3 separate regions of the Homo sapiens genome follow, and regions 1 and 2 are each linked to region 3. The links come from fine-mapping of genetic effects on gene expression. A gene starts in region 3. Each other region holds a variant in brackets. All regions are shown on one strand. Distances are between the middles of the regions. Region 1 overlaps DCAF4 (DDB1 and CUL4 associated factor 4). Region 2 overlaps PSEN1 (presenilin 1). Region 3 holds the start of DCAF4 (DDB1 and CUL4 associated factor 4).

Region 1 (2,848 bases), 30 kb before region 3:
AGGGACAGGGTCTTGCTCTGTCGCCCGGGCTGGAGTGCAGTGGTGTGATCAGGGCTCACTGCAGCCTTGAACTCCTGGGCCCAAGCCATCCTTCTGCCTCAGCCTCCTGAGTTAACTGGGACTACAAGTGTGTGCCGCCATGCCTAATTTTTTTTTTTTTTGAGATAGGGTCTTGCTGTGTTGCCCCAGCTGGTCTTAAACTCCTGGCCTCAAGCTCCCTAAGTGCTGGAATTATAGCTACCACACCTGGCCTGATCTTTTCATGTTATAGTAAAAGATCTGTCAAAGTCATTACATCCTGGGGATGGGCTAGGTTGACAACTCTCCCCACAGCTCTTTCTGGTTTAATGCTTCAGTTCCTAGGACCGGTTTAAGTCTTCAGGGCTCCAGTTCTGAGGACTGTGACACACAACAGCATGGGTTACAGCAGCCCAGAAACATGATATACACTACTGGAGACCTTCAGCAGGAGAAGAGGACAGGCCTTGGGCAGTCATGGATTTCACATTTGTGATTCTGATCACTTGTGTGGCTCTAAGACCAGAAGTGCTATCTTGGCTGAAGCTGAATCCCGGCTGCAGTTTATTACTGCAGCTGGTAACTACCTGCATCTGCCTCTCAGCAAGGCTGAGCTCTCTCTATCATCCAGCTCACAAGAGCTCTTCTGTGATAAAAACAGGTGAAAAATCGACTTAAAAAGGAGGCGAAGTCCTGGTGTTGATGAGAATAGTAAATAAGTCTATGAATGTCCTAACAAAGTAATGCTTCCTAGCCACAAAAATGTTCCATGGGGTATAAGCCCTTTCTATAGGAATACCAGTAGAGGTGACAATTCTTGAAGACTGAGAACACATTCTGCAGTGTCAGCAGCTACTATTTCAGTGTGAAAGCATTGAGCCTGCACACTGTCTGATTACGCTATAGCCACCATCATCTGTAATCAACTGGTAACTCCCTTCCAGGGGGCTTAGTGGCCAGATAGCTGCTCCTAATCTGCAGATCATGGAGCCACAGGGATGGTAGTAAAGGGGCCACAAATCTTTTTTATTTATTTATTTATTTTGAGACGGAGTCTCGCTCTGTTGCCAGGCTGGAGTGCAGTGGCGTGATATCGGCTCACTGCAACCTCCGACTTCCTGGTCCAAGCAATTCTCCTGCTTCTGACTTCCGAGTAGCTGAGAGATTACAGGCAGGTGCCACCATGCCCAGTTAATTTTTGTATTTTAGTAGAGATGGGGTTTCACCATGTTGGCCAGGATGGTCTCAATCTCCTGACCTCGTGATCCACCCTCCTTGGCCTCCCAAAGTGTTGGGATTACGGGCGTGAGCCACCGCGCCGGGCCGGGGCCAAGAATCTTTACAATGACCATAACTTCTTTTCTCAGCAT[C/T]CTCTGGTGGAAATGTGAGTAGAGACAACAGGGAGCCCAAGTTTTTGGATAAGATAGTTGCGTGGTGGAATAATGCTGGCCTGATGAAATCCACTCAAACTCCAAACCCAGGCTCCCCAGGACCTCCCCACCTGCCTGTTTCTGAAGTGACGTTTGCCCACTGACATGGGATGAGGCTGTCCACCTGGTGGACATTTATTTACACTCCTGATTACTAATATAATCTAATTCTACTTCCCTCCTAGTCTCCCCACCCAGCTGTCCACACTCCCCTTGATTCAGTTCTGTTTTGGGGTAACTTTTCCCTCTGCTGCTGAAGTTGCTGGGATCGCCCCTGAGAGACAGTATTTGATGGGGTGGAACTTCCCCTTCCTTCCTCAAGTACCTGCCACCAGGATTCCTTCTTCCTCGTGCACATGCAGGGGCAGGTAGGCGTACTCATTCACGTGGCCTTCGTACTGCCTTACGCACTTCGTGGTCCTCAGGTCCCACAGCTTGATCTGTGGAAAAAGCACCAGGGGCCATCAGGGAGGGGCCAGGGGGTACCATGGTGGTCCCCAAGTGCAAAGCCAGGAAGGCAAGGTGGTCTCCAGTGGCCTGTGCAGGTCATGAAGATCTCCATCTCGAATTCTTGAGCCTTGTTGTTCATCAAAAGCATGTAACCAGGCCGGGCACGGTGGCTCATGCCTGTAATCCCAGCACTATGGGAGGCCAAGGTGGGCAGATCATGAGGTCAGGAGTTCGAGACCAGCCTGACCAACATGGTGAAACCCCATCTCTACTAAAAATACAAAAATTAGCCGGGCGCAGTGGCGGGTACCTGTAATCCCAGCTACTCAGGAGGCTGAGGCAGGAGAATCGCTTGAACCTGAGAGACAGAGGTTGCAGTAAGCCAAGATAGTACCACTGCACTCCAGCCCGGGCGACAGAGCAAGACTCCATCTCAAAAAAAAAAAAAAAAAAAAAAAAAAGGACATAACCAGAGAATCCTTTTCACTTTTGTTTACGTCAGATTAGGCTCATATGGTCAACGAAGCAGTCCCCATGCAGGGCCTACAAATCACTTGGTCTTCAGCGAAATTCCCCTGCCTGGGGTCTTGGTGTGAGGACCTCTTCAGCAGAACCCTTTCACCTGGCAGGGCACTGGGCCACGAGACCCTGTGGCCTGAGAAAGTCCATGATCCCCTACCTTTCCAGCCATGTCTGAAGCCATCAGGTATTGCTCATCTTGGAGGATCCGCACAGAGGTCACTGCTGAATCATGAAACAGGCGGGTGGCCTTCCATCCCTTGCCTTGATTTCCACAACGCAGATCAATGGCAAAGATTTCCCCAGAGCGGCAGCCATTAAACAGCAGAGGAGCCTGTGGAAAGAGGGACTGCTCAGTGCCTGGCTATCATGACATCCCTCTGAGGCTGGGCAGGGCAGGTCCTCCTGATACAACCCCTCTTCCAGCCTCT
Region 2 (2,500 bases), 270 kb before region 3:
AGCCTGGTCAACATGGTGAAACCGTGTCTCCACTAAAAATACAAAAAATTAGCTGGGTGTGGTGGCACACGCCTGTAATCCCAGCCACTCCGGAGGCTGAGGCAGGAGAACTGCTTGAACCCAGGAGGCGGAGGTTGCAGTGAGCCGAGATCGCACCACTGCACTCCAGCCTGCATGACAGAGCGAGACTCAGTCTCCAAAACAAAACAAACCAAAACACCAAAGGGGTAAGGAAATTGATACTTTCATATTACTGAAGGGAATGTAAACAGGCACAGCTTTTTTAGGAGGCAATATGGCAAACTATCAAAATTTAAATACATCCTTTGACTTAGCAATTCTACTGTAAGAATACATTTTATAATAATATTCATAAGTTCATGGATGCACTCTGTAAGTGCTGTCTGTGATAGAAAATAAATGGAAATGATCTAAATGTCTATCAATGAGGATACCCACCACTGAATATCTACGTAAGAGAACACTATGCAGCCATTTCATGTGCTGACATCAAAAAACAGTAATGATATTCTTAAGTGAAAAATACTGGCTTGCCCAATTTTCCACTATTTTCCTCTACTTCCTGTAGTATCCTCTCTTGTCTCATTCTCTAAACACAGTAGTTGACAAAGTTTGACCCTTGTCTTCCTCTTCTCTTCTGCTTTTATTTGAATTGCTCACCAGCTCACAGACCTTAACTACCAACTCTCTGCTAATGTTCTTCAAGTCTCTATCTCAAATATCAACTTTTTCCCAAGCTCTAGTATTTCATTTCTAAACGTCTGCTAGCAATGTCTACCTAGTGACCCACAGGTACTGTCAACTAAATTAGATATGAGCCACAGAAAGATATAAAACTAAACAGATCCTTCACACAAGAAAACATGGCCAGGCGTGGTAGCTCACACCTGTAACTCAAGCACTTTGTGAAGTCAAGGCAGGAGGATCGCTTAAGCCGAGGAGTTCAAGACCAGCCTGGGCACATGGCAAAACCCAGTCTCTACACACAACACAAAAAAATTAGCCAGGCCTGGTAGTGCGTGCCTGTAGTCACAGCTACTCGGGAGGCTGAGGTGGGTGGATCACCTGAGCCTGGGAGGTCGAGGCTGCAGTGAGCCATGATCACACTACTGTACTCCATCCTGGATGGGAGTGAGACCCTATCTCAACAACAACAACAAGAAAACACAGGAAAGCATTTTTTCTTCATCA[C/A]CTTTCCTTCAAGCTTACAACTTCTCTCCTCAGTTGCTAGAACTATTGATTCTACCTCTGAATCCTCTGATCAACTCTTTCCCTTGATTGCTACTGCCACTACCATAATTCAAACCCCCATTACTTTCCACCTAGATCATGGCAATATCATCTTAATTATGCTTAGTATGCCTCTCATGATCTCAGTATCCAACCCACCAATTCATCTCACACAGTGCTGCCAGCTTACAAAGGCACGGCTCTGCTCACATTACCCTTCTGCTCAACAATCTCAGTTCCCCAGTGGTCACCGAATAGCAGAAAGACATCTAAACCAGTCACTCAAAGGAATCCTTGAGCTTGCCCTAATCAACAACTCCTAACAGGTTTTAAAATGGGAATGCTGGTTCCCCAATATCTAAACATTTTCTTTCTTTCTATTCATATTGAAAACTCTCTTGAATCAACATCAGGTAGAAGACAATTGCTTGCAAGGAAACAAAGAGATCTGCAGGAGTTCCAGGAATGCTGTGCATTTAAGATGAGAACAAGTACCATGAAAATGACCATAGTTACATGTGCTTCAGTTCCGATAAATTCTACACTGATTACTAATTCAATATCCTTCTCAAATACTTACAGGAGTAAATGAGAGCTGGAAAAAGCGTTTCATTTCTCTCCTGAGCTGTTTCAACCAGCATACGAAGTGGACCTTTCGGACACAAAACAGCCACTAAATCTAGAAAAAGAAAAACATAAAAGACATCTAATAAAATGTATGGGCTAAACTTGTAAATGGGTGGTAGGGAGGAATTAACGAAGGAAAAAAGTTTAATGTTTTTTGTCTCTTTTTACACAAAAAGACGTTGAATGAATATGAAATAAATGGCAGGTGAACTGGTGGGGGTGGGGGAGACAACATAAACAAAATAAAATGACACAGAACATCTGTAAAAATTTCATTTGGGTTTGACTGCTATTTGCTTAGTGTACAGTGTATCGTTACTGGGGTATAGGAACAAGTCTTCCTAGTTTAAAGGAAAGCTGCAGAGATAATGATGAGATAGACTATTTTAAGCAGTTGTCAACCTACAGTGAGCAGAAACAGGGAGAAGTCACTTCTAAACTAATCACGGATATGAACTACAAATTAAAAAGATTACTCTGAGATGAATTTAATAAAGGGGATTTGACTGAACTTTTCAAAATATGAAGAGCAGAGTAGAAGAAATTCATCCCTTCTCCTTTTTAAAAGCAGTATTACGTACTACTGAGAAGTACTTGAAGTAAGAGGGCAGTAAATTTAAAT
Region 3 (2,640 bases):
GGGATTCCACCTCTGTTGGTAGGACCCCCAGGCCTGGTTACCCACAGAACACCACCTCAGGCCGGGCGCGGTGGCTCACGCCTGTAATCCCAGCACTTTGGGAGGCCGAGGCGGGCGGATCACGAGGTCAGGAGATCGAGACCATCCTGGCTAACACGGTGAAACCCCGTCTCTACTAAAAATACAAAAAATTAGCCGGGCGAGGTGGTGGTCGCCTGTAGCCCCAGCTACGCGGGAAGCTGAGGCAGGAGAATGGCGTGAACCCCGGGGGCGGAGGCTGCAGTGAGTCGAGATCGTGCCACTGCACTCCAGCCTGGGCGACAGCGAGACTCCGCCTCAAAAAAAAAAAAAAAAAAAAAAAAAAAAGAACACCACCGCGACTCTAATTTCCATCGTTATTTAAAATCAGAGTTTGGGACTTTGGAATTGTTTCCTCTAGGAAGCCGTCCCCTCAGTTTTCTTTGCTTCTGGCTGCGCTGCTGGAGTCACAAGACAATGCCTGTAGAACACCATGGTGAAAGGCGTCATGGTTTCTGAAGCCCCCGGGGAGCCCACGAGGCGTGGCTTTCTCGCTAACTCACAACTCAGAGTGGAGGCGAGGGCCAAACCCAGGCCCCATCACTTGCTAGTTGTGCGCTACCCCGACGGACAACCAAACTGCACCCCTTTCTGCGTCTGACAAGGACATCATAGCGCTGGCAAATGTTAGCGCCTGTGAAGCCGGCAGCACAGAGCCGGCCACTTCGTAAGCTTCAACCACACCTAACCTGTTATGCTGACCTGAACATTCACAGGGGACACCGCCCCAAGGCCCGCAGCCCAGCCCCCGCCAGGTGTCGGGTGGGGCCTTCAGCAGCAGGTCTCAGAGAAGCGCTTAGAGAAACGCCCTCAGCGGCGACACTCGGGGTGCCCTCCCTGCGTGTTTACGGTTGCAGCACTGATCCGGCCGGAGGGCCCCACGCGCCCCAGAACGGGCGGAGCGCGCCGGCCCAGCTGCCACCTAGGCCCGGTGGCGCCGGCGTTCCACGTGCTCACTCCTCCCCGCCCCTCCCCGCCCCTTTCCCTGGCCTTCCTCGCCGCGCCTGTCTCCCACCCCGAGCTCTGCAGCGGGAGCGCGGCAGCCCTCGAATCGATGCCAGTAGGCACCCCAGGCAGCACAGTCTTACCTGTTCAGCGTGTCCCTTCCGGATTCCCCTCCGGCTCAGCTCTGCAGGAGTTGGAGCGAAGCGTGCAAGGACCCGGAAAGACCAAGGTGTAGCGTCAGCCAGTTAGGTGGATGCGTTTTGGTGTTGTAGCAGCCGATAGGGCTATAGCGGCCGTTCTTTCCTTCTCACTGGACGCGGCTTCTGTCTGTCGACGTCAATAGGGACGATCTCATGAAGAAGGCGGGGAGTGGGGCTTCGGCTCCTCCCAGGCCTGGCCTGTCTGGGGCGGATGCACGTGGAGGCTGGTCATGGAGCGCTTGGGGGTGGGGCCAGGCGCACGCGGGGGCGGGGCCGGGGGCTGCTCCCGGAGCAGCGGAACTGTCTGGAGACCCTTTCGTGAGAGACCGTGTCTTCCTCCCTCCGCAGGGTGATGCGGCCCTGGAGAAGTCCTCTCGCTGTAGTGGAAAGAGCGAAGGAGTCTGTGAGGCGAGGGACAGAAGTAACGTGATGTTACGACTGGCGGCGAAGTCTTCGGCAGTGGCCTCAGGCGGCCGAGGCCGCTGCCCTGGGTCTGCGTTCAGGGTGTAGCGTAGCGAGCCCTGACCGTGAAACCGGGGGGCCTCCGTGTTGGCTCCAGTACTGCTGCTTGCTGTGGGACCTAGGGCGAGTCTCTTCCCTTCTCTGTGCCTTGATTTCTTCTGTTGAGAGAAGGAATCGGATCTATCATTCTCATGTCCTCTCCAGCTTAGAGTTTGTTCAGACCACCAATATTTCTAGAATGACCTATGTGTGCTGTGCCTGTCCCAGGTATCAGCTGACGGTTATGAGATCTTATGAAAGGAAAACGGAAGCCTCTGATGGGCTTGTGTCCCGAAGAGACAGTTTGTGAGGACAGCTGGATTCACAGAGGCTAGGCTTGTTGGGGTCCAGCAGTAGGCCTGGTGTGTCATGCGGCTCCGTAACACAGGCCCCTGCCCGCGGCTTGGACCCGTTAGAAAGCAGGCGGTGGGGTTCACCCATTGCACGCCGTGCGAAGGCATTTCAGCTCTTAACCAGGAAGCTAGGATTTCAGGCTAAACTCCTGGCTCTCAGGAGTTTATAGATAAATGCAGTATGTGGAGCGGGGCCGGGTGATGAGGGAAATGAGAGAAGTGGGCATAGTCAGAATAAAGAACCGCTTCATGAAGCTTGAGCGGCCTTGAAGAGAAGGCAGAGAAAAATTCTAGCTGAACAAACAACGTGACTGGAGGCCGGTTCAAGCCGGCTGGATGGGAGGGGAGTCTTGGAAGGAAAACTCAGCAGGGTGGGTTGGGGCTTGGTGACGCAGCAATTGCCAGGGAAAGAGTAGTCAGGCCGGGTGCAGTGGCTCACGCCTGAAATCCCAGCACATTGGGAGGTTGAGGCGGGTGGATCACTTGAGGCTAGGAGTTCCAGACCAGCCTGGCCAACATGGCGAAACCCCCAACTCTACTAAAAATACAAAAAATTAGCCGGG

The links. PIP is the estimated chance that this variant, and not a neighbour inherited with it, causes the effect.
Region 1: its variant is the best candidate, but not a certain one, in a credible set for the expression of DCAF4 in whole blood (INTERVAL, PIP 0.60).
Region 2: its variant is the best candidate, but not a certain one, in a credible set for the expression of DCAF4 in whole blood (TOPMed, PIP 0.52).

The regions. Positions count from the first base shown.
Region 1 is chr14:72,955,426-72,958,273 of GRCh38, reverse strand. It overlaps DCAF4 (DDB1 and CUL4 associated factor 4), which reads right to left. Exons shown (of 14, transcript NM_015604.4): 12 at 2,578-2,751; 13 at 1,774-1,888. Among named protein-coding and RNA genes, the nearest start is that of TRC-GCA8-1, 6.1 kb to the left of the region's middle. The variant C/T (reference allele first, on the strand shown) is at 1,389.
Region 2 is chr14:73,197,461-73,199,960 of GRCh38, reverse strand. It overlaps PSEN1 (presenilin 1), which reads right to left. Exons shown (of 12, transcript NM_000021.4): 8 at 1,832-1,930. Among named protein-coding and RNA genes, the nearest start is that of PAPLN, 39 kb to the left of the region's middle. The variant C/A (reference allele first, on the strand shown) is at 1,213.
Region 3 is chr14:72,925,070-72,927,709 of GRCh38, reverse strand. It overlaps DCAF4 (DDB1 and CUL4 associated factor 4), which reads right to left and starts at 1,246. Exons shown (of 14, transcript NM_015604.4): 1 at 1,167-1,246. RefSeq lists enhancers at 1-536, 1,208-1,477, 1,768-1,867, 2,268-2,640 and a silencer at 978-1,037.